6 separate regions of the Homo sapiens genome follow, and all the other regions are reported to be linked to region 1. The links are microRNA targets in miRTarBase. Many come from high-throughput screens and were not tested one by one. Region 1 holds a microRNA gene; each other region holds the end of a gene's coding sequence.

The links. The annotated mature microRNA hsa-miR-26a-5p reads UUCAAGUAAUCCAGGAUAGGCU and lies in region 1 at 2,320-2,341, opposite strand. An mRNA with a match to its seed (bases 2 to 7 or 8) in the 3' UTR can be bound and repressed. Matches are read on the target gene's strand: a 7mer-m8 pairs with bases 2 to 8, a 7mer-A1 pairs with bases 2 to 7 and ends in A, and an 8mer does both.
Region 2: miRTarBase lists EID2B as a target of hsa-miR-26a-5p. Seed matches in the 3' UTR shown: 7mer-A1 at 3,227-3,233.
Region 3: the mRNA of FKTN is a reported target of hsa-miR-26a-5p. Seed matches in the 3' UTR shown: 7mer-A1 at 2,436-2,442 and 7mer-m8 at 3,002-3,008.
Region 4: miRTarBase lists USP3 as a target of hsa-miR-26a-5p. Seed matches in the 3' UTR shown: 7mer-m8 at 1,688-1,694, 8mer at 4,411-4,418 and 7mer-A1 at 4,481-4,487.
Region 5: the mRNA of PDE4C is a reported target of hsa-miR-26a-5p. Seed matches in the 3' UTR shown: 7mer-A1 at 3,263-3,269 and 7mer-m8 at 2,681-2,687.
Region 6: the mRNA of VANGL2 is a reported target of hsa-miR-26a-5p. Seed matches in the 3' UTR shown: 8mer at 1,467-1,474.

The regions. Positions count from the first base shown.
Region 1 is chr3:37,966,914-37,971,753 of GRCh38, reverse strand. MIR26A1 (microRNA 26a-1) reads right to left here and starts at 2,350; the gene lies at 2,274-2,350. It overlaps CTDSPL (CTD small phosphatase like), which reads right to left. Exons shown (of 8, transcript NM_001008392.2): 5 at 3,872-3,928; 6 at 255-347. RefSeq lists enhancers at 1,555-2,116, 2,117-2,680.
Region 2 is chr19:39,528,044-39,532,856 of GRCh38, forward strand. It overlaps EID2B (EP300 interacting inhibitor of differentiation 2B), which reads right to left and starts at 4,809. Exons shown (of 1, transcript NM_152361.3): 1 at 2,944-4,809. The coding sequence starts at 4,759. The coding sequence ends at 4,274.
Region 3 is chr9:105,634,160-105,638,999 of GRCh38, forward strand. It overlaps FKTN (fukutin), which reads left to right. Exons shown (of 11, transcript NM_001079802.2): 11 at 892-4,840. The coding sequence ends at 1,105. Among named protein-coding and RNA genes, the nearest start is that of TAL2, 26 kb to the right of the region's middle.
Region 4 is chr15:63,589,201-63,594,040 of GRCh38, forward strand. USP3 (ubiquitin specific peptidase 3) reads left to right here. Exons shown (of 15, transcript NM_006537.4): 15 at 1,461-4,840. The coding sequence ends at 1,626. All of the region lies in intron 2 of USP3-AS1 (USP3 antisense RNA 1), which reads right to left. Among named protein-coding and RNA genes, the nearest start is that of FBXL22, 5.8 kb to the right of the region's middle. RefSeq lists an enhancer at 1,265-2,464.
Region 5 is chr19:18,206,528-18,211,105 of GRCh38, forward strand. PDE4C (phosphodiesterase 4C) reads right to left here. Exons shown (of 15, transcript NM_001098818.4): 15 at 1,438-4,578. The coding sequence ends at 4,402. Among named protein-coding and RNA genes, the nearest start is that of RAB3A, 4.8 kb to the left of the region's middle.
Region 6 is chr1:160,424,030-160,428,869 of GRCh38, forward strand. VANGL2 (VANGL planar cell polarity protein 2) reads left to right here. Exons shown (of 8, transcript NM_020335.3): 7 at 23-254; 8 at 1,089-4,641. The coding sequence ends at 1,349. Among named protein-coding and RNA genes, the nearest start is that of VANGL2, 26 kb to the left of the region's middle.

The sequences.
Region 1 (4,840 bases):
CCAGCTTCAGGTGGCTGCACACAGCAACTTCATGGAGCATTTGTTCTAAGTGCTCCCTGTCACCATGGTAACCCAGAAGGCTTTCAGACTGGCACCATGCACATGGCCTGCATCCATCCCATCTGGGGTGGGAACCTGTCACCATAGAAATGGCTTCCCCCACCAAAACAAAGGGCTGCTTGACAGATTGGGGGTAGGGGTGGAGGGGCTGGGAGTACCAGGCTGGGAGTGTGGGGCTGGGAAGCAGGACTCACCTTGGCCAAGCTGGCAGTAAAGAGCACACATTCAAAAAGCTGCCCCATCCTCTGGAGGAACTCGTCCACATGTGGCCGCTTCAGCACATACACCTGCAATGGCAGGAGACAGCAGGCTGGTCAGATGTGGCAGTTGCTGGGGATGGCCTGGGGCCCAAATGCCCACTGTAGGAAGAATTGCTACAAAGGTTCCTGCCTCCCTCCCCCAGGTCTATGCATAGCAGGCAGAGGCCTAGACTGTATGAGGGGCTATGGAGTCAGACGTGGCACTCCTCAGACAGGGCTCCAGGTCTGAGTTCACTGCAGACGCCCCTCCTAAGGGAAAAAGAGAAGCTGACCATGGTGTGAGGGTCTTGGGGATATTCAGGGCCAGCAAATGGAAGGGTTGTACCATGTTTGTGTGTAATGACTCATTCATTTCACGTGTGTTTCTTGGCACCTGCTGAGGGTCAGGACCTGTGTGGGCACGGGCCACGGTCTGGGTGTTGTCCTTTCAGAGGTCCAGGCCCAGCATATTGCCCAGCAGGTCTGGGATTGCTCCGGCTGCCACCTTCTGTTCTGGATGGACATCCCCCTTACTAGGAAGGTCTGGGGTTGAAGCACAGGCCCAGCAAAGCTGCAAGAAGGGGCTTCCTTGTCAGCTTGGGAAGCTGTCTATGACACCATAAAGGGTGGGCTTGGTATGTTTCAGGGGATGTGAAACCATCGCTATTCCTGGACCCCAGACATAATCCATCAGGAGGGGTCTCTGAGCAGAGGGGTGCAAAGAGTAGCCTTTTCTAGAATGGCTGGGCTCTGTGCACCCTTTTGACCAGGCCAGGCCAGGGGGTAGCAGTGAGGAGGCCAGGCTTCAGACCATACATAGGTTCTTGATTAGGGAGCCTGAATGAATCTGGGGAAACAAGGGAGATGGGAGAGAAGGCAAAGCTGGTGAGAGAAGACAGAGGAAGTGGGAGGAGGGAAGAACTAATTCAAACTTGAATAAATTCCGTTTGAAATTAGCCACTTCACTAAAATAAATCAAACTCTTTAAAATTCAATTCAGCATGTTTACTGAGCCTCAGCTCTGAGCTCAGCCTGATGTAGTTGCAAAGATGAATAAAACACAGGCCTTGCCCTTGAAGAGCTCATACTCTAGAACAGACATAGGCAAAAACATATAAAAATAAACATGGCATAATGAAAGTTGTAGTAGAGGGATAAATTAAGGACAATTAACTCCCCTCACAAGGGGAGGGGATCATAGAAGATAACATTTGGCCTGGACCTTGAAGGAGTTCACCAGGCCAATAAGGTTGAGAAGAAGTGGGCTTTCAGGCAGAGGAAACAGTAGAGGGTGAGACCCGAGGCCTGAGAATACTTGAGAAGCTAGAGAGTAGCCAGGCTGTGTGCCCAGCCATCAGAGGTAGTGAGAGAAGCCGGAGCAGCAGGGTCTGGGAGAGGAAGTGGCTGAAGATGAAGTGAGAGGCAGGTCACAGTGGGCACATTAGGGCCTTGAATGGCAGATGGAGCAGGTGAGAATGGCAGGAGGAGCAGCAGAGGGGAGATGAGGGCTCTGCACCACATGCTGGGTGTGCTGCTGGCCGAGGAATTCTATACAGAACCAAGTCATTTTCAAGGTGCCAGAAGCAGGAGCTCAGGAGGGCCAGGACTCAGTGGGAAATTCATGGGTGACTGAAAGAAGGAGGTGGACATGGATTTGTGGCTGAGGGTGGAGCGAGGGGCTGGAGGAACAGGATGTCGTAGCACGGGTGCCAACACAGCTCTGAGGAGCTGGGAGGCTGGGGTAGGGCTGAGGGCAGGGCCTGTGGCTGCAACAGCTGCAGACTCCCACTTTGCCCACAAGACTCCTCGTTGCCAGCAAACGGGTGTGGCCTGTAGTCCTCAGTCACCCTGGGAGTCCTGCTTGGAAAGCAAGCTTTGCTACATGCAAAGGGCAGGAGACTGATTTGTGAACTCTGGTGTTGGTGCCTCTGGCAGAGAGGGGGGTCCTGAGCCCGGATGCCGGCGTCCAGGCCCGCGTCCCCGTGCAAGTAACCAAGAATAGGCCCATTGGGACCTGCACAGCCTATCCTGGATTACTTGAACGAGGCCACGGCCTTCGCCAGGGCCTTGGTCCTCCTGCTCTTGGCTCCTGTGGCTTCATTCCCTCGGGAGAGAATTTCTGACCCCAGCCCTGGGACCTTGTGATATCACAGCACAGCCAGGATGGAGGGTGGGGGAGCTCCTGCAAGAATGGGTCAGCAGTGGGCAGGCCAGTCATGCTTACAGTCACGTGGTACAAAGGATTAATTTCTCTCCTAATTCTTGCTATGCCATTGGGCAGCCTCTCCTTTGTCTCATCATGAGCACTATGTAACACAAGCCAAGATGATAAATGCAGAAGCCTTAACTGCTTCTCAGATGCTGAGTTAATTCAGTTGATGCTTTTGCAAATGTTAAATGCCCAAGTGCCTGCCGTTTTGGCTCTGTGATGGCTTTTAAAAGCATGAAGTGTGGAAACACTAGGAAAAAAGCTGCCTCTCCCCGGGACTGTTTCCTGGCAGGATGTCCTGGAGAATAAGCAAGAAAGCAAGGACATGGGAGGGAAGGGACTTGCGTATCAGGAAAAGAGCCCTGGGCCAGGAGGCAGGAGACTGGAATTTTCATTTTAATTCTTCCCATCGTATGACCTTTAACCAACCCCTTCCCTGGCGGAGCCTCAGTTTCTCCATCTAGACAATGAGGCAGCTGGACCAGCTGATTCCCAAGCTTTCTCCAGTTCTGACACCTTGCACTCAAGAACCAAAGACTACTGACATTGCTAAGAAAAGACATCCCGTTGTGGCTCAAGTACCAGGAAAGTCTCCTTCCTGGGATATCAGGCCAGATACGCTCCCTTTAAGACCTTGGACTTGACAAGGAAGATGGTTAGATCATCCCTGTGGAAAATCTGACAAAAGCCCCCCAGCTTCAACCTCTAAAGCTAGTTTTCCTACAACATTCCCAATTTGTTCATAAATGAAGTTATTTCCGGAAGAGCTTTATGCAGATAAGGAAAAAAAATCAGAAGCAACGAAGACGCATGCCAACTGACTACGGCATCTTTATTCATAGCAGCCTGCGGATCCGAAAACTCACACCCTTCCCCCTTTTTCTTTTGGGGTGGGTATTTGCTAAAGATTCTCTGGAGAAAACGATGCAGGAATGATAAGATCAGTCTGGAGCAGCTGGCATTGAAAATGGACACTTTTTCCCGAGAGTCCACCATAAGTGGGTGACTTGTGGCATTTTCCTGTTGCCTGCTAGGAGAGTAGCCGAAAGCAATTACACAAGGAAGTTAATTAGACCATCAAGCTAGGCCAGTGGGGGATACGGAAACTTCTGAAATTCAAATCAAAGAACTATTTGAACTTGCAACCGCATCTAATATTTACGACTATAGTTTCCTTATAATCTCAGTATAAAATAAATTCATTGGAGTGAAAAAAAGAAAAACATTGTATTTATTACAGTATGCTTCCTTTTGATTCCGTAATAAAGTTATTACTGAAATGAGAATTTAGAAATAAAGTTCATAGGAAATGTAAGTACTAAAAAATCTTAATTGAAACTCAAATTTAGCTTCAGTTTCTTACCTGATGTATAGTTCCATCGATTTCAACCGGAACAATAAAATCAGCATTACTAATAGGCTAGAGAAAAAAGAGACTATAATTAATATGTCTGAAGGAACAAAAAAACTCTGGAAATTTTAGCAAGAAAAAAGCCTGCCTAGACCAATGTTTTGGTTATTGGAAAAAACAGTTCAGGAGGAGGATGATGAAGCATGCCTTGGTTCCTTAAAATAAGCACAAGCAGGAAAGCACATTATTTTCCACTGTGAATGTCATTACATTTTCAGCATCTTGGTCCAATATCACCTGCCTGGCCTCAACCAAAAAGTGTGGCACTGCCTGGCTAGAGGATGGGGCTCCTGAAAACTCCAGCTCTTGCCCAGAGTCTTGCTGGGGTGATGGGGAATCACTGCTAGCCACCAGGGGGAGGAGCTGAGCATGTAATGGGCTCCGAGGACAGTGCTGCTTGAGGGAAAACTATTTGTACTTGGACCCACAACTGGCGGCTGCCCTGCGATGGGCTGCTCAGCAGGAGAAGATGGCCACACGGACTCAAAACAGTAACAAGGCCATGTGGGGGTAAAGTCAGAGGCCGCAGGCCACACCCTTGGGCAGGCTCTTCCTCTCCTTGGACCTCAGTTTCTCCTCTCTTCCTTAGCTATTGTGATGGGTCTGATGCATGCCCATGGCCCCAGTCCAGTACTGAGAATCAGTGATTTCAGGCCCTCCCAGGTAGCCTGGCACCAGCTCCTGCCTTGGGTGGGGGTACAGAGCCAGCCCACCCTATGCCTGCTCCGCTCCAAGGAACACAACATCCAGCACACCCACAAACTTCTGGATATTTTAAATAACTCTTTGACAATATTAATGACATTTAAAATTCAAATATGATTCTTCAGCAGTCATTACGTTCTCAATGATGAACTTACACACAGTTCTCAATGGAATTCCACAAATTAGGTACAAAACTACTTAAATGAACAGGCCCAA
Region 2 (4,813 bases), not on the chromosome of region 1:
GTCTCTACTAAAAATACAGAAATTAGCTGAGTGTGGTGGTGGGCGCCTGTAATCCCAGCTATTCAGGAGGCTGAGGCAGGAGAATCGCTTGAACCTGGGGGGCAGAGGTTGCAGTGAGCCGAGATGGTGCCACTGCACTCCAGCCTGGGCGACAGCGAGACTCTGTCTCAAAAAAAAAAAAAAAAAAAAAAAAAAGAACGAGGTAAAACTATTGTTCTTTGTAGATGATATGATTGTATACCAAAGAAAAGCTACTGCAAACAATAAGAGAATAGAGTAAGTTTAATAGAGCACCAAAAAAAAAAAAAAAAAGATAGCATTCAAATTTACACACCATAAAACCTCATTTACAATAGCCATAAACAACAAACAGAAAACCAAACAAACCTTGGAATATTTTTAACAAAAATATGCAAGACCTATATGAAGGAAACTTTAAAATACATCTGGGGACAAATGAAAAGACTTACCACATTACTGGATAGGATGACATCGTGAGGATGTCAATTCTCACTCAACAGTATATATATTGAATGCAACCTATATAAAAATACTAACAGCTTTTGTAAAAATTGAAACTAGTCAAGATGATCCTAAAGTTCCACAATAGAAAAAAAAAATCAAAGAACAGCCTGAAAAACTTTGGAAAAGAAGAGCAATGAGGGTGGACTAGCACTACTAGGACCTAAAACATTCCAAATGAATAAAAATTGTAATGTTAACATTTAAAACTTAAAACTATTCATGAGTGTGGGGGGAAGGTAGGGTGCAACCTGAGGCAAAAAAAAAAAAAAAAAAAAAAAACCAAACAAAAAACCAGATTCCTTCATGATCCTGCAGTGGCAAAGACCTTTCTTTTTTTTTTTTTTTTTTTTTTTTTTGAGATGGAGTCTCGCTCTGTCACCAGGCTGGAGTGCAATGGCATGATCTCGGCTCACTGCAACCTCTGCCTCCCGAGTGCAAGTGATTCTCCTGCCTCAGCCTCCCAAGTAGCTGGGATTGCAGGTGCGCGCCACCATGCTCAGCTAATTTTTGTATTTTTAGGAGAGATGAGTTTCACCATGTTGGCCAGGATGGTCTCGATCTCTTGACCTTGCGATCCGCCCACCTCGGGCTCCCAAAGTGCTGGCATTACAGGAGTGAGCCACACCCGGCCCCATGACTCAAAGTCTAGAAACCGCAAAAGAAATAAACTGAATATACACAGCTACATTAAAAATTTTTTTCTCTTTTTTTTTTTTTGAGACGGAGTCTGGCTGTGTCGCCCAGGCTGGAGTGCAGTGGCTCAATCTAGGCTTACTGCAAGCTCCGCCTCCCGGGTTCACGCCATTCTCCTGCCTCAGCCTCCTGCATAGCTGGGTCTACAGGCGCCCGCCACCACGCCCGGCTAATTTTTGTATTTTCAGTAGAGACGGAGTTTCGCCGTGTTAGGCAGGATGGTCTCGATCTCCTGACCTTGTGATCCGCCCGCCTCGGCCTCCCAAAGTGCTGGGATTACAGGAGTGAGCCACCACGCCCACCCAACATTTTTCTGCATGGCAAAAGGATCACAGCAGTCTGAACTGCTGTGAACTATATTCCATGTCATCACAAAGGGCTAACTTCTTTAGTGACTGACACATAACTTACAAGCCAATAAAAAATAAGAATATGGACAGATAGTTCGCTGAGAAATGAAAACAAATGGCTCTTAAGCATTTGAAAACATGCGTCCTCACTCGTAATTAGAGAAATTCAAATTAAAACCATAGTGAGAAACCATCTTTTACTGTCAGATGCTTCCAAAGCTGTCAGATTAGCCAGGCCGTGGCGAGAGGCACAACTATCCCTGGCTGAATGGAAGGTAAACTGGTTGAGCCCCAAGGACAGCACTCTGGTGACACATTAAAAATACCAAGGTGGGGCCGGGTGCGGTGGCTCACGCCTGTAATCTCAGCACTTTGGGAGGCTGAGGCAGGTGGATCACGAGGTCAGGAGTTCGAGACTAGCCTGGCCAACATGGTGAAACCCTTTCTCTAAAAAAATACAAAAATTAGCTGGGCACAGTGGTGCACCTGTAGTCCCAGCTACTCGGAGGCTGAGGCAGAATAGCTTGAACCCGGGAAGTGGAGGTTGCAGTCAGCTGAGATGGTGCCACTGCACTCCAGTTCAGGCGACAGAGTGAGACTCCGTCTCAGAAAAAAAACAAAAACAAACAAAAAATAAGGTGGCTGGGTGCGGTGGCTCAAACCTATAATCCCAACACTTTGGGAGGCTGAGGCAGGCAGATCTTGAGGTCAGGAGATCGAGACCATCCTGGCTAACCGGTGAAACCCTTTCTCTACTAAAAATACAAAAAATTAGCCGGGCATGGTGGCACGTGCCTGTAGTTCCAGGTACTCCAGAGGCTGAGGCAGGAGAATCACTTGAACCCAGGAGGCAGAGATTGCAGTGAGCTGAGATTGCACCACTGCACTCCAGCCTGGGTGACAGAGCAAGACTCTGTTTCAAAAAGAAAAAAAAAAAACAGTGTATTATGGAAAACGAGTAAACACGTATAAATGCATAGAAAATGTTAAAACATTTTGCAAACAACCCAGATGTCCAAAAGGTGTCTAGTTCATTATACTAAGATAAGGCTTTACATTGTAGTTGTAAAAAAAAAAACGCCCAGTGGAGTAGCTCACGCCCAGCACTTAGTACTTTGGGAAGCCGAGGCAGGAGGAACAGTTGAAGCCAAGAGTTGGAGACAAGCCTAGAAAACATAATGAGGCCCCATCTCTGTTTCTATATATAAAAAAAGAAAAAAAAAACCCTGATATATAAATCTCTCCATATATAACTGAAAAAACCCAAGATGCTGATAGAGGTATACAATATGTTACCTTGATTTTATATTTTTAAAAATTTATACCTCGTGATGCAAGTTAACTACCTTGATATTAAAAGGGAAAATGCACAATATTTAGATTGATGTTTATTTGCATATGCATTAGAAAACCTGAAAGGCGTACAGTGAAAAAGCAAAAAACAAGCAAAACCAAGAAAACAACAACAAAACTCCAAGCCACAAGCAATGGCACCTGCATGGAATAGTTCTGAGTTTGGCAAAGGACAGCAACAAGAGAGATTTCTCACAGCATCTTTTGATACTTTTTTTCTTTTTTTTGAGACGGAGTCCCACTCTGTTGACCAGGCTGGAGTGCAGTGGCGTGATCTCGGCTTACTGCAACCTCCGCCTCCCAGGTTCAAGTGATTCTCCTGCCTCAGCCTCCCGAGTAGCTGGGACTACAAGCGCGTGCCACCACACCCAGTTAATTTTTTATTTTTCGTAGAGATGGGGTTTCACCATGTTGGCCAGGGTGGTCTTGAATTCCTGACCTCAGGTGATCCACCCGCCGTGGCCTCCCAAAGTGCTGGGATTACAGGCGTAAGCCAGTGCGCCCGGCCGATACTTTTTTTTGTTGAGTCTTGTGAATAGAATACATATTCTAGAATAAAATAAAAAGCTTAAAATTAACAAAAAACAAGTTTATTCCACACCTACCCAATTTCACATAGACTTGAAAACACTGATCATATAATACGTGGTTTTTTCTATTGAATATTTACTGTTCATCTAAAGTACCTCAGAAAACACAAATATGAATCTTACACTAGGATTTGTTGACATGACCACAAATTGTGAAATTTCAAAGTCCTCTCAATAGCCTTCCAATCCTAGTAACTCAGGTACACCTGGATTCCTGACAACTCTATTTCTTTGTTTTCTTTCATCACTTAGGTTCATTTCTATGGGTTCTGTTATTGGCATTTTTTTTTTCTCATATCTTTGCAAAACCATCCTTTATGGTGAAAGTCATGAAGGATTCTTCACAAATGCAGGAAAATGCATTGCTAACAAAGTGCTAAGTCAGAAGTGTCTTGGGACCTGTTTGAAAACAAGATTCGGCCGGGCGCGGTGGCTCACGCCTGTAAAGTAATCCCAGCACTTTGGGAGGCCGAAGCGGGAGGATCGCTCGGGTCCAAGCGTTCGGGACCAGCCTAGGGATGCGAGACTCCCTTCTCTATTTAAATAATACTAAAAAAGAAGAAAGAAAACAAGATTCAACAGTCTTGTCTGTTTCCATTTCGGAGTGTGCTTCCTCCTTCAATTGCACATTGCCGTATTCCCTTCCAGTTTGCATTCCCCCTAATGACTGAGTTAACTAAACTGGCACAGCCTGCCTGTTCTTTTGATCCCAAAAGGGTCACTTGGCTATTCCTTGCCACCAATGTCATCATCACAGCCGACTCAGTCGGCCAGAGGACTGAGGGCCTCGGAGGCAGTCAGCGCTACCGTAAACGCGACAGCAGCGAAGTCCATCTGCGGGGGATCCGCGTCAAAGGCTGCTTCCCTCGCCTTGCAGCCTTCCACAAACAGCCTGCGGCGTTCCTCGAAATCCCGTAGTAATCTGACCGGAATCATGGAGCTACCATCCAGATACTCGCGGAACAACAGCTGCCGGTTAATTTCTAAGAAAGCGAGCTGCTGATGGGGGTCTGGCGCGGAGGCCAGGCCCGGGACGCTGCTGGGGATGGGCCCGGGCACAGGGCCCGGCATCCGCGCCATGGACCGCGCAGCTTCGGCCACTGGGCCTTCCCGAGCCTCCTGCACCCGAACCCCGCCGCCGACTGCCCCCCGCAGTACGTCGCTGACGCCACTCGCGGTGCCCACCTGTGGGACACTGCTATCTCCGGGGAGCTCGGACATCTCCAACAGCCCAGTCGGCTCCGCCATAGTCCCAGCGTTTCTACGGAGACTGGAATAACGGCACTGCACTGCTGTATGCGA
Region 3 (4,840 bases), not on the chromosome of region 1:
CTCACTGTGTCACCCGGGCTGGAGTGCAGTGGCGTGATCTTGGCTCACTGCAACCTCCACCTCCAGGGTTCAAGTGATTCTCCTGCCTCAGCCTCCTGAGTAGCTGGGACGACAGGAGTGTGCCACCACACCCAGCTAATTTCTTTGTATTTTTAGTAGAGATGGGGTTTCGTCATGTTGGCCGGGCTGGTCTCGAACTTCTGGCCTCAAGTGATCTACCTGCCTCAGCCTCCCAAAGAGCTGGGATTACAGGCGGGAGCCACCACGACCGGCCTGGTTTAATTTCTAAAACTTACCTACTAATCGACTTAGTTCTGCAATAAATATAGTTACAATCATTATAACTAGTATTCCTTGGGCTGGTTTAAAGATGTTCTTTAGCATTTGAGATGAAAGGCAGAAACCACAGGTAGGATCATGTAAGCTATGGAACCAAAGGAAAAGCCTGGAAATGCAACTTGGAGTCCTGCTTACTCTGTATCCTTGGAAAATCCAGATTGTGAAAGAAAAGAAAAAGATCATTTTCATCCATCTTTTGACAGCTTTCTACTTTGACACTTCTTTCCTCTACAGTTCCAACAGAAAGCCCAAGGCTGACTTTGATTTGCCTGACTTGGGTATGTTCCCATCCCTGCCTCAATCATTAACTTACTGGCCTGAGTCTTAGTGATGGGGTCAGCCTCTCCTCAATCCTATGAGCTTGGAACAGGAAAGGAAAATTGGAGAAGAGGAAAGGGATTCTGGACAGTCAAAAATAATTAAATATCCACTCTCTTCCCAAAGCTGTGTAATGGGAGAGCACTGTCCTTCAGCCAATAATGCACTAGCAGCTAGATTCCTTAGCTAGACCTTCTTCCACTGTTGAAGCCTAATCCCTCTGTTTTGCTGCAGATACCTGTTTCCGAAGTTTACACTGTGCTGGACTGAGTTTGTAGACATGAAGGTCCATGTACCCTGTGAAACCCTCGAATACATTGAAGCCAACTATGGTAAGACCTGGAAGATTCCTGTAAAGACGTGGGACTGGAAGCGCTCTCCTCCCAATGTGCAACCCAATGGAATCTGGCCTATTTCTGAGTGGGATGAGGTTATCCAGTTATATTGAGATAGTAGGTTGAAATGGGAGAATTTCTCTTTTGGAAAAAAAGGTAGATAACTGTTTAAAAAATACATGTCTATTTGTCAAACATAAGTGGGAACCAAAGAAAAAATGTGACAAGTTTGAAGACACAGAAAGAGTCATCTGATGTAATTCTCTCACTTAGTACTGAGGAATTTTCATGTGCCACATACAATGCTAGGTTACAGTGGAGAAGCCTAGATGAATGAGACAAATACCTACTTCTTTTATTCCTCCTTTTGGTAAACAACTCAATTTTCCTTTGAGGGAACCCTCCCCCACCCTTTGAAGAGTTCAAGTTCTGTACAGGTTTTTAAAACGTGAAGTAATGTTTGAACTGGAAGATGAGCTCACCAGGCAAAGCTAAGGAAGGATATACTAGTTGAAAAGAATAACCCACTCCTCTTCTGGGCATTTAAGCTGGTATGTTAGTGCTACTTTTAAGATTGTGGAGTCTGAGTTAATATTCAAGTGATCAGACTTTGAGTGACATCAAGAAAAGATGATATCAGGTTCATTTTTCAACTAATCTTATGTGGAATTGAATTAGAGAACAAGGCATTATTCTTTTAGGGAAGGTGAGAGCTTATTTGTATCAGAGCTTATTACTTGTCAGGATAAGTAAATTTCTGTACATGTACTGTTTTCATATGTGAAGTGAGAAGAAACTTTATGCTTGTTTAATGCTTAAATTTCCATCCATTGTGAGAATATTTTCACTGACCTCTGATGGCACTTGTTGACAAATCATTCAAGTGAGACCATGTTACTAGACATGATCTTGAAAGAGGCCATGATTTCACAAAACTCATTTTTATTTTATTCTCAGACAGTCTGTTAGGTAAAAATATGAGAAATTCATGTACATTTTATATTTTCTGAATTTATAATCTGTGCACTCCCAATTTTAATGACACTAAAATATTAATAGAATTTTTTAAATATACTCTAATTTTTAAAACATACTCTTTATTATCTTCATTTATCAATTACAGCTTCGTATCTCTAATTTATGGTCTATATACCAATTTAAATGGCATGTAAACCTGCCTGTTTCTTCTCCTCTTCTAATATATCAGATCTCCAAAATGGAAGCTAAATGGTGGACTTGACAACTATTCACCCTACCTCAGATCATAGAGTTTGTAAAGTTTGTGTCCCTCCCCAGTTTTTCAGTCTGTTGAATGTCGATGGGGCAAGAACTCAGACTTCTACTTTACCAAGTACCACACACTCTGGAATGCTTTAGTTTCCTTTTCCCCTCAAGATGTCTGAGTCAGCTAGGATGCTGTTTACCCCATCTCTCTCTTATATCACTTGAATGATATATTGTAAGTGAGAGGTAAAGGAAAATGTAGGCACAATAAGCACTGCTATTTTTCTCTTTGTCTAGGAAAGGAAGCTGAATCTTATATCTTATCTATGCTATTTAGGACTACTTTCTGGAGCTTGGCAGATTTTCCTCTGACACCAGAGAACAATAGTAGTCTCAAGAATGGAAACCTGAATGTCTGAGGGAATGGGCTGGTAGACTTTTTCGAAAACAAATTAGAGAAAGTAACTTACAACCACCCATTCCGGATTTGTAAAGCAACATGAAAACCTTTGATAAATGATAACCAACAGTCTTCTGTCCTAATTTGCATTCTCAATGCAGAATTATTGGGTCTTTCATAAATAACATGAGTGGTTTCTGGAGACATTTAAGATTGTCAGCAAACTTGTCCCAAAATGGCACATCATCATAATCCATTTTCTCTTTGCTAGAAAATCAGCCCATAGAGTGCATTCCCAAATTCTAAATAGCTGACCCTAAATTCATTTTTCATGCTTAAAAATAATAGAACAAATAATAATACTATTTTTGGGCAAAATCCACCCTACTTGATGAGGACCATTTGCTTGTGCTCAGTATTTAGAAATGCATACACTCCACATTTCTCCCCATTTCCAATTGGGACTCCCATTCTTTGCCAGGAGATCTTACCCATCCCTTTTCAGATTAATCTTTTATCCTTTCCTGAAGTACAAAGTCTTAAGAGTGTCTGAAATCCAAGACATCTTGGCCCAATTGACACAGGTTCTATATTCTTCCCTACATAGACCACTGGCTGCTGAAATACTTTTCTTGTCTTCTGGTTTCACAGGCTTCAGCTCATGGGTTCCACCCTAACTTGGGGAAACAAAAGCCTTCTCTAGAATCTGAAGGCCAGGCTTACCTCTGATTCTGATTCATCCATACTTCATCTTATGTATTTTAACAGTTGGGTTCTGTGGAGTGTCCAGAGACCTTGGGTTAGGTATATCCATCTTCAGTACCTCATTGGATCACTTTTCTTTCATCACTTGAGTATTCTAGCAGTCATTCTCCTAATCTGACCACTTTCAGGTTTAGTTTACCTGGCTTACCTGGGGAAGTTGACAACTTGTTGGTAGTTAGGCACCCATGAATGTCTCCAGAGACATCCTGAGAGGCAAGATTCCTCTTAATTGATAACCAGGACAACCAGGTAGTCACCCAGTCCTCTCTAAGCAGGGAGCACTTGTCCTTCTCTCCTCTGCTGCAGCTACTGATATCTGGCCCCTGGAATAAAACCATAGTTCCTAAAATTGAGCATCCCTAAGAGTAGCTGCTTGGTGGGACAGCTGATTTCTTTGATTCCCTAGCTGCAAAACCTGAAATTGACCACTAGGTGACAGAATGTTTGCCAGTATCCCCACAAAACAAGTTAAAACTTAAGTGAAAATCATTCTGCTTTTGAATCTTAAAAGCTAGAAAAACCATAATGTAATATTCTTTTTAAACCCTCTTATTTTATAACTAAATAAATAATCACAGAAAAGAATGATCTGAACAAGAACAGCTGAGGCTAAAACCCAAGACTGCCGTGACTCCTAGTCCAATGTCTGTTTCGCATCACAACACAGTATCTTTAACAGTGCTTGAGATGCTTAACAGAGAAGGCATCCAGTGCTTCATTGAGGCTAAGTCTCAGGGTGTTTCTGCCGCTTAGTATCTTTTTGTTCAGATTGAGAACCTAAGGCGACAGAGAGGTCAAGGGGAAGTATTTTCTAGTTCAGAATTCAGAATTCTTAGGCAACCTTCATACCTTTATCTGGAAAATGCCTTCTCTCCAGACAATAAGACAGTTCACATCTGGAGACATCAGCCTTTGGTACCTAATTCTCTAAGCTCAAGATGCATCCCATTGCCACTTTACCATTCTATTTCCCAAGGGAACCATCAGCACCAACCTGCTAAATGCCTGTATTTGAAGTCTCTCCCCTTCCTGAAGTGACCTTTTATGAGGCTCTTTCCTTCCTAAGGGACCTTTCCCTGGTAGTAGTGGTCTCATTCACAAAAAAGAATAATAGATGTAACTGGAGTCACTTTGCAGTTTTCAAGATTTTTTTTTTATCTGCTTGGCTGGAAAGGAGACTAGAGTATCTAGTTTTTAGTATTTAAACTACTTTTAATTATTTATATTGATACTCTCTGATAAATGCAGGTAGTTAAGAATAGATTGTACTCATTCCTTTTTGAGTTTGTGACCTCAAACCATTGTTTTTATTCTTACACGACTACAGTACTTCAAATGGCACATAGATAGGCAGGATATTACATAGGTAAGCAGGAATTTATACATTGGGTACCAGAGCTAAATCTGGAAAACACATTTGGAATGAGCTTCCACACTTCAGTCTAAAATCTCACCCAAA
Region 4 (4,840 bases), not on the chromosome of region 1:
AAAAGTGAAATGAAGAATGGTTCATTTGAACCCAGTATTTACGACCCAGTCTTTATTTGTCCACAAACTCCAAAGTTGCTTATTCGTTTACCAACTGAAATTTAAATGGGGCAAAAGGGGAAATTACTTGGAATAACTTACTCCATATCATCTACTTTAAAGACTCATTTTAAGTCTTGTTAAAAAACATTAATTTTTTCCCCTGAAAGTTTGTATGAGGGGTCTAACCTTCTGGTTTTTGGTTTGAGAGTGGCTATTTTACCTTCAAACTTAAGACTACTATATGTGGGCAGACGACTATCCATGTTGAAAATCCTTTTCCCGCAGAGCTGTGATAAAGTAACGTCTACACTCACATAGTGTTATGAATGACAAGTCTGATTCTCACTACTTTACAGGCACCTGGCTTTTTTCTCCTTGGAGTGTATTCCTGCTTGGTAGTTGGTAGGGACACTTTTAATTTGGTGCCTTCAGCTCATGAAACTCTCTATACTGTAGGTCTGAAATCATTTGTTCTCTGTACCCCTATTATATGCATAGTGAATTTCCTGGATCTCCCTTCCACATGTCTTAAATACTCTAATGATTTCTGTCTGTGTTTCTAAAGACTGCCATGGCCTACTTTTCCAAATCACCAATTTGGGTTTCATCTGTATCCAAATAAAAGATAAGCTCCTCCATAAAATATTTATATTAAATCAGTCACATTTTTCTGACAACTTTTTCGTAACAGCCTATTCTTGTTTTATGATTGCACTATCTTTTTGAAACTATTAGCACTAATTTAAAAATGTAAAGTTCTCTTAGGTTTTCTGCATTCAATTCCTCAGGGTTGATTGCCTTGCTTGTTCTTCCCGGTATTTCTTTCCCCTCAAAAATGTGATTTTGTAGGCGTGCAAAAGGCTTGTTTTTAAAATTTGGTTTTGGTGGTTTATTTGGAATCATAGTAAATGATGAGATGGATCTTTATTATTTAAATAGGGTTTTCCTGGCACCTACAAAGGTCTGTTCTAGCTGCAGGCCTTCCGTCTGACTTGGAGGACTGACTCCAGGGTTGTGTGTGTGAGTGGGTGGGTCATGCTGATAGGGTAGAGCCCCTGATGACCACGGTGTCAGGGAAGGGTGCCCTTCTTTGTTAAGCTTAGTTTTTTCCTAAGATTCTGATGGGAAAACCTGGTACCTAGTTTTCCATGTTTCCGTAGGCTTTGACCTGTGCTTGTTAGGTTGCGAGTTCCTCATCTCTGTTTTCTCCATTAGTCCAGGGCCATCTGCTTTGTGTTCTAGCAAACCCTCGATTTCTGGTCAGTTTGGAGGAAGGTAAAAACATTAATTTAACAAGCATCTTAAATCAAAAGTCTAGGATGTATTCTTATTAAAATTTAAATCTAACATTATATAGTTGTACAGGTCTTTTTGTGATTTCTGAGGTTCTTTTTTCCTTTGGTCTTTTGCCTTTACAGGGTTGGTTCTGGACATTACACAGCATACGCAACTCACGAAGGCCGCTGGTTCCACTTCAATGACAGTACTGTAACACTGACTGACGAGGAGACTGTGGTGAAGGCGAAGGCCTACATCCTTTTCTACGTGGAACACCAGGCCAAAGCTGGATCGGATAAACTTTAATACCTCCTCCAAATCATCATTCACCAACCATACCAGAGAAACATTTCCAGTTTTCCACAAATACTTGATACAAGATTTAATTTCATTATGCACTTTTCAATTTCCTATTTTGGATTTAGTTTTGTCAATGGTAGTGACTTACTGAACATGGGCACCAACTAATTTTGTTGTTGTTCTACCAGAAAACCTCAGCAGATGTTTTGATTTGCTGCTTTAGTTGTAATAATTCAATTTTTATAGGTAGTTGTAAGAACTTAGTCTTATTTGACTTTTTTATTTTATGTTAATGTTTTCAGTTCTCACTTTGAGGCACATTTACATCAATGCTTTTGTTCCTCTCACATGCTGAAAGCAAGATGTGTTCCTTATTGTGAAGAGCGACACAACTGCCTGCTGCCTTTCCACAGCTATAATGGACATCAGGTTGACTCTAAATCAAGGATCATGTGTGCACAATACTTGTGGCCCACAAAATTTCACAATGACTGCTGAGGAATCATTCTTTTTGCCTGTAAAATATAACAAAGGGCATCATTAAGTAGACCAGGTAATTACTGCTTGTCTCTCAAGGCTGCTGTCTTTATCAGCACTAACTAAATAAATTTGTTGGTTCAGTTGTACTTGTCCTGCAAATACAAGAATTACTCTCTTTGTTGGTTTTTTTGGTTTTGGGGCATACTTGTTTGCGGGGAGGTAAGATGGGAGTAAAGACCAAATACATGTAATGTTTAAAAAAAATGCTGTGACTCACTGACATGGTATAGGTGTTACCAGTGAGGTAAAGCCATGGCGTCTGCCTCCTTTTGAATCAGTATCTCATTCCCCCTTAGTTGTACCACTGGAAGTCACGACATGTCCATTATAGACTTACTTACTGCTTGTGTTTGGCATCTGAGTCTGAGGTGTGACCCTCTGGGATTTACTTGGATCATCACCCGCACTTCAGTTTATCACTGGGGGGTGTGCTTCCACAGGAGGAAATTTAGAATCTTCGCTGCTCTGGGTTTTAACACCTCTCTCTGGCCTATCCTGATTGATAGGACAAGTTGAAAATACTGTTGGAGTAAGTAAGTGGAGTTTTCGTTTTGTTTTTTGGGGGTTTTTGGAGACAAGAGTCTCTCTCTGTTGCCCAGGCTGGAGTGCAGTGGCACGATCTCAGCTCATTGCAACCTCGGCCTCCCGAGTAGCAATTCTCCTGCCTCAACCTCCTGAGTAGCTGGGATTACAGGTGCCCACCACTACACCTGGCTAATTTTTTTTTTGTATTTTTAGTAAAGACGGGGGTTTACCATGTTGGCTAGGGTGGTCTCAACCTCCCTCCTGACCTCAGGTGATCCGCCTGCCTCAGCCTCCCAAAGTGCTGAGATTACAGGCGTGAGCCATCACGCCCAGACAGTTTTGTTTTTAAAAAACAGATTTAACTCAAAGATTCAAATTTGGAACCAGAATCCCATTTAAAGAAAGCAGTTGTGGTTTCTACAAGTGTTCTAAGACAGTCCTGTGGTGGTTTTTTTTTTTTCTTTTTTTTGGTTGGGGGCGGTGGGGGTTGGTAGACATAGCCTACCAATTCTCCACAAGGGACAAAATGTATCTTGTGTTAAGCCAACGAGACTTTCTGGCAATTTTTTTTTTTTTTTTTTAATGGAGTCTTACTCTGTCCCTCAGGCTGGAGTGCAGTGTGGCATGATCACAGCTCACTGTAGCCTCAACCTCCCAGGCTCAAGCGATCCTCCCACTTCAGCCTCGAAGTAGCTGGCACCACCACACCCAGCTAATTTTTAATATTTTTACTAGAGATGGGGTTTCACCACGTTGCCCAGGCTGGTCTTGCACTCCTGGGCTCAAGTGATCCACCCACCTTGGCTTCCCAAGGTGCTAGCATTACAGGCATGAGCCACCACGCCCAGCCTGTTCTATTAAAAACATCTTGACCTTTTTTTTTTTTTAAGTTTATGATATAAAAACAGTCTGGTGGCTTTCCCTCAGGTTGGATATCTGAAGTTGTGGGAGCAGATGTAGCTCCATTTCCATTTTAATATTAACTGGATAAATCCCACATCTTCCCAGAACACATCTGCTAAACACTTTAACATGACAAGGAGCAAATTACAATTATGTGTAAACTTATATCATCCAGTACAATGGCCCCTAGCCACATGTGACTGAAATTTAAATTAGAAACTCAGTGCCTTCAGTCACACTAGCCACATTTCAAGTGCTCAGCACCCACATACGGCGTAGGACAATGCTGGTCTAAATTTTCACTCCAAAGAATAAAACTTTGCCATCATGTTTAGGTCTTACAACTTTGAGTCCTAAAAGATAATAGGGAGATGTGTGCTTAAATTAATTTACAATGCTAAATTATATTAGGTTAAACTGTATGAAACCCTGCTATTTGATGAGTTCTGATCTACAAAAATGACAGCTCCACCTGATCTGATGTATCACACATTAACATCACATCTAATTCAACCTGAAATGTGAGTCTCCTTTGATCTTGCAAAGTATCTCCTATGAATCCGGGCTCTTTTGCTTAGAAGGTAGACAGCTGTAACCTCTAACATTGATACTTCGATCTTCAGTCTCTCTGAATGGGCAGCTGTTAAACAGTAAAGGCCTGGGCAGAGTTGATGGTGAAAAAAAGCTGTATTTTTATACCAAATGGAACTTCAGCAACACGTTGGACTACTTTGTCGGGCAGAGTGGTCTTCAGACAGGTGATGCTGTTGGCTTAAGAGATGAACACGTCTTCTCTCTGAATTTGTTTTTATTGGTTGGTTTTACTTGAACAGAAACGTTTGAATGGTGTGAAGATTCTTTAGAAAAGTGATTGGATCCATCTCAATTGTGCACTTGAACAGCAGTGATGTAAATGTGCTTATTTGTGTTTTCATTTTTAACTGTGCAGCCTTACCACACCTATTTTGAAAGCTGATCTTTTGTCCTCTTCAGGGCTTTTCCCTTGTGCCATGTTGTCTCCAGCAATATATGTGGCTTCTGGCTCAGAGCTTCTGCTGAGGCAGGGCCTCGCGCTGAGTCACATGGCTCCTTGGAACAAGAAAACTTTCTCAGAAGTCCCCACACGGGTGGGTGACAGAAACAGTTTGTGGCAACACAAATCTCTCTCCATGGTGGAGAAACCTTTGCTTATCCACTGTATTCTACTCAGTGTATAGTGATGACAGATGTACTAGAATTAAACCAGTCAAGT
Region 5 (4,578 bases), not on the chromosome of region 1:
CTGTCCCAGGAGGCTGCTCAGGAGGCCCAGGCATGAGAATCGCATGAACCAGGGAGGCGGAGGTTGCAGTGAGCTGAGATCACCGGCACCACTGCACGCCAGCCTAGGTGCTAGAGGGAGACTCTGTCTCAAGAAAAAAAAAAAAAAGTATCCCAGATACGGGTCCAGGGACGACTTCTCGGGGAAGAAGACACTAACTTAAAACCCAGTGTGGGGGCCAGGTGTGGTGGCTCATGCCTGTAATCCCAGCACTTTGGGAGGCCGAGGTGGGTGGATCACCTGAGGTCAGAAGTTCAAGACCAGCGTGGTCAACATGGTGAAACCCCATTTCTACTAAATATTAGCCGGGCATGGTGGCGGTCGCCTGTAATCCCTGCTACTTGGGAGGCTGAGGCAGGAGAATCGCTTGAACCCGGGAGGCAGAGGTTGCAGTGAGCCAAGATCACGCCATTGTCCTCCAGCCTGGGCAACAAGAGCGAAACTTTGTCTAAAACAAAAATAAAAACAAAAATCTAATGGGTGAGGCTGGGGGCTGAGAGAGAAGCATTCCAGGTAGTGGGAACAGCTTGTTTGAAGGCCCTGTGGTGGGACCAGGCTTGCAGTGTGGCCAGAGCAGATGCAGTCAGTAAGAGGAGAGGGACAAATGCCTTTGGCTCAAACTGAAGGAGAACATATGAATATTCATTTATAAGAAATATGAATATTCTAGGGCTGGGTGCAGTGGCTCATGCCTGTAATCCCAGCACTTTGGGAGGCCGAGGCAGGCGGATCATGAGGTCAGGAGTTCAAGACCAGCCTGGCCAACATGGTGAAAACCCAGTCTCTACTAAAAATACAAAAATTAGCTGGGCATGGTGGTGGGCACCTGTAATCCCAGCTACTCAGGAGACTGAGGCAGGAGAATCGTTTGAACCCAGGAGGCGGAGGTTGCAGTTAGCCAAGATCACACCATTGCACTCCCGCCTGGGCGACAAGGCGAGACGCAAAGAAAGAAAGAAAGAGAAAGGGAAAAGGAAAGAAAAGAAAGACAGAGAAAGAAAGAAAAGAAAAGAAAGAAAAAAATATGAATTTTTTTTTTTTTTTTGAGACAGTCTCGCTCTGTCACCCAGGCTAGAGTGCAGTGGCTCGATCTTGGCTCACTGCAAGCTCCGCCTCCCGGGTTCAGGCCATTCTCCTGCCTCAGCCTCCCGAGTAGCTGGGACTACAGGCGCCTGCAACCACGCCCGGCTAATTTTTTGTATTTTTAGTAGAGACGGGGTTTCACTGTTAGCCAGGACGGTCTCGATCTCCTGACCTCGTGATCCGCCCGCCTCGGCCTCCCAAAGTGCTGGGATTACAGGCGTGAGCCACCGCGCCCAGCCAAAAATATGAATATCTTATAACAGATGGAGAAAAACTAGAGGGAAATAAGTCAAAATACTGCAGATAATCCATGGGTGGAGATACAGCAGAATTTTATTTCCTTCTTTATACATTTCCATTATTTCCAAATTTTTTACAGCGAACATGGTATTACTTTGTAAGCGGACTGGGGGGAAAAATCTTGAAAAAAAAATTCCCTAAATATCTTCTTTTTAAAAGTCTGGAAGGAAATGCACCAAGTTCGTGAACCCGGATGACTTTTAGTTCTGGCACTGTGGAATTTTATCATTAACTGTGATGATGATGAATTCTGAGTGGTTATAATATTTATGAACGAAGCCAGCTGCTCTGGAAGCCGAGGGCGGCTGTGATGACGCCTGTATCTTGTATAAATATTCAGGCACGCGAAGAGGGAGGCAGAGGGGAGGGATGGATACTGAGGCTTCCGGAGGCGGGGATCGAACCCTAGGCTTGAGCATGGTGCTGCCCAGTCCGCTCGGAGGCCCGACCAGCAGGACGAGCTCTTCCCGGCGAGGTGCGGTAAGTGGGACCATCAGGGCTGGAGGATGCCACCCCTCCGACCCACCCCCCAACCCCCGACAAGCGCGCCCCGCCGTGTCTCCCACGCCCGCCACCAGGGGGTGCCGCTGGCTAACATTGGGCGCCCAGATGCTTGACTTTGAGCTGGCAAGAGGACCTCTCTGCGCCTCAGTTTCCTCATCAGTGAAATGGCCAGGACACTCAATTTGGTCAATCGAATGTCTTAAGATGTAAAGATTTTATTTAACCCCAGATAAATGCTCAGTACCCCAAATGTCTAAGATATTTCAGGGAGGTCACAGACAACAACCCCCCACACCTCGTCGGAGTTTATCCAAGTACTAGGATCAGGTTACAGAGGGGAAACTGAGGCCCAGAAGAGGCTATGATGGCAAGAAAGCCTCAGGGGCCTCCCTCCCTCTAGGGGGAGTCTGAGGCAGTTTCAGGAATCAGGAGACTTAGAGACCTGCTAGAGAGGGAAAATTGTGTGTTTTTGTTGCTGTCCTAGGGAAGGAGGAACACGTAGGGGACCCAGTATGGAGTTCTGCGGACAGAGAAAGCAGGGGGCTCCTACATCCAGAGACACCAAAGACAGAAAATAAAGCGACTTAAAGCAACAACTGGTGCATAGGTTCAATCAGTCTTCAGAGACATGCCGGGCACAGAGCCCCCTCTTTTTATTGTTGTTGTCGTTGCCCAGGCTGGAGTGCAGTGGCGCGACCTCGGCTCACCACAACCTCCACCTCCCGGGTTCAAGCGATTCTCCTGCCTCAGCCTCTCAAGTAGCTGGGATTACAGGCACCTGCCACCATGCCTGGCTAATTTTTTTTTTTTCTTTTTGAGACGGAGTCTTGCTCTGTCACCCAGGCTGGAGTGCAATGGCACGATCTCGGCTCACTGCAAGCCCCGCCTCCCGGATTCAAGCGATTCTCCTGCCTCAGCCTCCCGAGTAGCTGGGATTCAGGCACCCAACACCATGCCCAGCTAATTTGTGTATTTTTAGTAGAGATGGGGTTTCACCGTGTTGGCCAGGCTGGTCTTGAACTCCTGACCTCGTGATCCACCCGCCTCGGCCTCCCAAAGTTCTGGGATTACAGGTGTGAGCCGCCGCACCCAGCCTCTAATTTTTTGTATTTTTAGTAGAGACAGGGTTTCACTATGTTGGCCAGGCTGATTTTGAACTCCTGATCTCAGGCGATCCACCCCCACTCAGCCTCCCAAAGTGCTAGGATTACAGGCGTGAGCCACCTGGCCCGGCTTTTTTTTTTTTCTTTTCTTTTTTGAGACAGTGTCTTGCTCTGTCGCCCAGGCTGGAGTGCAGTGGCATGATGTCGGCTCACTGCAACCTCCACCTCCTGAATTCAAGTGATTCTCCTGCCTCAGCCTCCCCAGTAGCTGGGATTACAGGCACCCGCCACCATGCCCAGCCAATTTTTGTATTTTTAGTAGAGATGGGGTTTCACCATGTTGGCCAGGCTGGTCTCGAACTCCTAACCTCAGGTGATCCACCTGCCTCAGCCTCCCAAAGTGCTGGGATTATAGGCATGGGCCACTGTGCTCGGCCTCAGAGCCCCGTCTCTTTCCTTTCCTTCTCTTTTCTTTTTATTTTTAGACAGGATCTTGCTGTGTTGCCCAGGCTGGAGTGCAGTGATGCAGTCATAGCTCTCTTCAGCCTCCAACTCCTGGGCTCAAGCGATCCCCTTTGTCTCAACCTTCTGAGTAGCTGGGATTCTCAGGTGCACACCACCATGCCTGGCTAATTTTTTTTTTCAGAGATGGTGGGGGTCTTGCTATGTTGCCCAGGCTGGTCTCAAACTCCTGAGCTTAAGCAGTCCTCCCACCTCAGCCTCCCAAAGTACCGGGATTACAGGCATAAGCCACTATGCCTTGCCCAGCCCTTCTTTTCTGCTCCTCTTCCTGCCCCCTACCGTAGTTTCAGAAACAAAACTGGGTATGAGTGAAGCTTTGGTGCTGAAAATTTTCCCCACTCACATTTCCATGCTCTTGCAGAGAGCCGCTTGGTAGAGGAAGACAGGGAGATGCCTTTGGGATGGTCTCCTGACTCCCCACCCTTTGTGCAGGGCTACTACAGAGGCAGAAAGCTGGCACGAAGTAGATGAGCAATAAATATTTGATAAAGAAGGAAATAATTAAGTGACAGATGTGACTCAAGAGTGACCACTGGAGAGGGTGGACTAGAGGCTCCAGCAGACAGCACCTCTCCTCACAGGGATAGAAGCCCAGGAGAAAGACACCAGGGCATCGTAAGAGGCTGCCCCTTAGAGAGCTCTTTTAGGCAAGTCTAGGGTCAGAGTGGACCCCAGCCAGGTGCCTCCAATTAGACCCTGGGAGCCACCTATAACTAAGAGCTTGATTGTCTCCCTAAATGGGTGGGAAAGTGAAGCAGGAGCCACATGGAGCCTCTTCCTGGAAAGTCTGCCTGCCAAGAGCCAAAGGGCTTTACCATCCATTGCCCCTGCAGTTCACGCAGGGCTGGCCCTAAGTCCTCTGGTTGTCGAGGGGTAAGTCCCCAGGGTCTGGGCCGGCTTCAGGGGACAGGAGTTCAGTGTCAGGCAACTCCAAGGCCTCTTTGGCTAAAGCTGTCTCTTCCCCCTCCTCTTCTTCCTCCTCATCCTCTTCCTCTGCCTCCTCCAGAGTCAGTTCAAACTGGAATCT
Region 6 (4,840 bases), not on the chromosome of region 1:
CCAGTCCCCTCCTGTCCCCTAGGCTTGTAGTGGCGGTGGAGGAGGCCTTCACTCACATTAAGCGGCTGCAGGAAGAGGAGCAGAAAAACCCCAGGGAGGTGATGGACCCCCGGGAGGCAGCCCAAGCCATCTTTGCATCCATGGCCCGTGCCATGCAGAAGTACCTTCGGACCACCAAGCAGCAGCCCTACCACACCATGGAGAGCATCCTGCAGCACCTTGAATTCTGCATCACGCATGACATGACGCCCAAGGTAGGCCTGCCCTGCTGCCAGCATCCTTCCTCCTTCCCCAGCTCCTCTTCTTTCCCACCTTCATTTTCCCTTATTCTCTCACTACTTTCCTCACTGTCCACCTCATTTCTCTCTCCTCACCACCTCCTTTTTATAATCTTCTCTCTCATTCCTATTCCACCTGCCCCATCTGTGTGGGGTGAAGTCTTTAGGTAGATGAGGAGAAGGGAGTCCTCAGGACCATTTTGGGGATGGCTGAGACTTATTTCTCATCTCTATGAGGGCTCCGGAATTACCAGATCCAAAGGCCCACTTTCACCTCCATTACCCTCTTCACCTCCACTAGCTGGTCTTGGCTTTGTGTCATTTTGAGCCATTGCCCACCTTCAACTCTATTGCCAGCTTCCTAGAATTGCTTTCCCTGAGCCACCCTTGGTGAGCAGGTAACTAAAGATGTTGCACTTTAACCTTGACACCTTTGGCTCCCTCCTGGTGCAGACCTGCTTGGCACGAATCATACAAGCTGTGTGGGAAGGAAGGAAGAATGAGGGAGGGCTTGCCCAGGTCACAGCCTGGTGCAGGGAGAAGAGCAGCAGATGGGGGTCAGGGGAGCCGAGTTCAGTCCTACCTGATGAGCCACATCCCCCTGTGCACTCCGGCTTCTTCATTTATAAAATGAGGGTCTGAAGCAGATGATCTCAGGCCCCTTCCTGCTGTAACATTCTGAGGTTCTAGTTCATATGCATAGAGTGAGCTCAGGGACGTCCTTCTTGTCTTTGGAAACTATGACCTAGGGGATGAAGGACCGTGGGTAGATGACAGAGATTCTTATGCAGCCCCTTCTTTCCACTTCAGGCCTTCTTGGAGCGATACTTGGCGGCTGGACCTACCATCCAGTACCACAAGGAACGCTGGCTGGCCAAACAGTGGACATTGGTGAGCGAGGAGCCGGTGACCAACGGCCTCAAGGATGGCATCGTTTTCCTCTTAAAACGCCAGGACTTCAGCCTGGTGGTCAGCACCAAGAAGGTCCCATTCTTCAAACTCTCCGAGGAATTTGTGGATCCCAAGTCACACAAGTTTGTCATGAGGCTGCAGTCTGAGACCTCAGTGTGACTGTGCAACAGCAGGGGGAGTGGGAAACTCTGGGGGGTCCTGAGGGGGTGGGAGGGGGCTTGGTTCTCAGGCCCAGCCACATTCCTGCCACCCTTCTTCTTCTTGCTCTTTTTTTTTTACTTGAATTAACGCACCCCCACCTTCTCTCCTCGCTTCTTCCTTATTTTACCCCATGTGAACCTGGAGAGACCATCCTGCTGTCAACAGTACCTGGGAAGGACTCCCACCTCACCAACAACTTTTGTATTACTCTAGGCCCTGCAGGAATCAGTGCCTCTCTCCCTCTTCTTTCCCTAGTCTTTTCCCAGATTACAGTCTCTCCTGAAAGGGCACAGGGCCCTGCTGATTGTACTTTCCCCTCCTGAGCCCCGACTCACAAATCCAAGTTCTTAAAACATTTCTCTTCAGTGGCCCAACAGGGTTTCTCTGGGGCACATGGACATGACTCCAGAGAGCCACAGTGCCAAACTCCTCCAGGGCAGCAACTGGCCCTCCTGTCCCTCACCCCAGCCACAACAAACCCTGGGTTCTAGGGCAGGGATACTCCTGCCACACAGCCCGAGTTAGAAATCTCCTTGCTAGGAGCATTTGCTTCCACATATATTTAGAGCAAAGAAGGATCCCATCCTTTTCCCAGAAATCTCCACCTAATGTTTTTGGTTTGTATGGTCACGTGACCATAGGCAACCACGTGGAAACCCTCTGTGACCACTTTTCCAGGGACTTAGGGGAAGGTACCTTTCTTCCAATGTGTCTTCCTAGGCAGCCCCTGAGGAGGAGGGCTGAATAGATCCCTGAGGTTTTGGAGAGACCCCCATCACTGACTCCTGCTCCCTAACCCTACCCTCACTTTCGTCCCCGCTCTTCCCAGTGAAGGATGGTATGTAGACTCCTGTACAGACATAGTGGCTTGCAGACCCTGACCCAGCCCCTGTGGTCTTAGACAAATGTTTTTATTTTTGTCACCAGCCACCCCTGTCCTGCCGCCTTCTCTCGACTCCAGAGACCTGTTGCCTCATCTCTTTTGGGGAAGAGCCGGCAGCTCCTCCTCATCCCCTGCCTTAAGTCCAGTTCTTTGCCTCAGGGGTCTCGTTTCCTTGGCCTTCCAGGGTCCCCACCCCTTTTCTCCCTGCCTGATTCTCTGAGCTCTGGGCTCCGTCTGTATTGGGTTGAGGGGCAAGGATTACTGCCTTTTGTAGGTACTTCACCCCTCACCCCATTTTAGCTTCCATAGTCTTTGCACCAAATCCAAATTCTTGATAATTTAGATCTCATTTTGAGCAAAATTTGCTGGCCCTCTAATAAATATTTTCAATATAAATCTGAGCCTTTGACTCAGACATTTTTGCCAAGGAGAGTAGAATTAGGAAGTACCCATATACATCCAGCCAGGATCCACATGGAGGACCTTTCTGATGGCTGCAATGACTAGGCCATTCCTCTGAGTAACTCACAGTGTCCTTTTGTAGGCCCTTCTTTTCCCTGAAAGACTGGTTGGTACTTACCTTGCAGAGCACATCCTGGGATAAGATCCCCAGTGTCTCCCCTGGGAGGCTCCCCCTCTGTGTAGCACCAGCCCTGGGAATGATGGAGCCTAGTGATCGGGGTTTCTCCTGCTGTCCTTTCTGCAAAAGTTCACTTGTTTACCCACCGCATGCTAGAGAGGAGCTCATTGGCCAATGCTTACCTTGTCCCCAAAGGGGTGGGTTGTGGAGCTCACTTAGGCAGGGCCTCTGGCTGGGGCCAGGGTTATGAGATAGGCCTGTATGAAATATGTCCTGTTCTGGGGGTCTGTCTCTTTTCTTCTCTTCAAAAACTTTGTGTCAGAGAGTCCCTTCTGAGTCACATAAATACCTCACTATCCTGGAAAACAGGGCCTGGATGGTGACTGGGGTCATTGCCTTTGTGGACAGGATGGAGTGTGGTGTGGTCTGAGGAGCAGGTTGGGGTGGGGGAGAGGGAAAGGATTTGGGATCTTAGTTGCTGCCCTAGGTTAGGGGCTGGGGAGTGTTTATTTTAAGATCCTGCCATGTTTTTAATCACTGTGATTTTTTTTTCATTCCCCTTTCCTAAAAAAAATTTTTTGCCTCCAACTCTCTAAGCACTAAGGGCTGTGCCTGAGAATGGTAGCATTTTGGTCTTTTGCTTCAGAACTGTGGTATCTTTGTCTTTTTTCATTATTATTATTATTATTATTATTATTATTACTATTGTTTTTTAAAATGTCAGGATGAATTGTCAGACATATGGCCATGTGTTTGTCCTCTGCTTCTCCCCTGTGGGAAGTTGTCTCCATGCTGTGAACTGCTGTGGGGTGTGCAGCTGACTCAGTCCCTCTGAGCAGTTTCCCCACTGTGTCTGTCCCATCATGCGCTGGATCTGCTCATTCTCCTGCTGTGGGGGTATGCCCACCTCTTACCCCCTTGACACCATAGGGCTGCTGTGGCTGGGCCTCACCAGCACTGTCTTTTGTGTGACTCATGGCATCCTCGTTCATCCCCACCGTGCCTAGCAGGCCTTCCTTTTCACCACCTCGGAACGCTTGCCTTTCCTCCCTCCACAACAGGACGCTGTGCCTCAGTCCTTCACCTACCTCGCCACTCTGCCACTGTCCCCATTGGTCCTTTCTCCTAAACTGGTCTTTGTGCTCTCTTTGTTTTTTCTTATTTCCCTCTTGTCTCTCATTTTTTCTTCCCATTCCCCTCCCATTTCAGCCCTTAACTTTTCTCTTTCCCATCTCCACTCAGTATTCCAATGGCAAACCCTGATGATGTAACACCTGCGATGAGACATCGGACTCTCCGGAACTTTCTCATCTGACACGTCTTTTTCCCAGGGTTCGTACTTCTCCTCCATTGGTCCCAGGCTAACTCCCCTGTTCCTCTGTGGTGTCTGTCAGTCCGTCTGTCTTCTCTTTCCTCTGCCCTTCCCACAGGGCAGTATCTGCTGATGGATTCAGTCCTGGTGTGTGATTGTTGTGATTTGTTCTTCCGTGCGCAAAAGGAAGAGGGCTTTTTGAGTCCCTTCCAAGTGAGATTGTAAATGTAGAATTTTCCACTGTTGGATCTAGATTTTTTTTCCTTTTTTTTGGGGGGGTGGGGTTACAGAGCTGAGACCTTGTGCATGCATGTAGAAAATTGTAAAATGTAAATTTTTTTTAATATATAAAAAGCTTGTTTCTACAGTTTGCAGTGGATCTAAACATTACGGCAATTTTAGGATTTTTTTCTTAAACATAGGAACTAAAACTGTACAAATTTTTTTTATATAAAATAAAGACATTTGACTTTTGTGGGGGCATTCTGTTGCTTTTCTTTCTTTACAGGAATGGGAGCAAATGAGGGCCAGGGAATAATGAATATATTCCTTGTTAGGGAGGGAATGGGCAGGAGGGGGCAGTGTGAGCTCATCATTGCTCTGCAGGCCTTCAGGGTGTGTTGGAGAGAAATGGGAAAATGAAAAAGGAAATTGCTTATTCTGAATCCTGATTC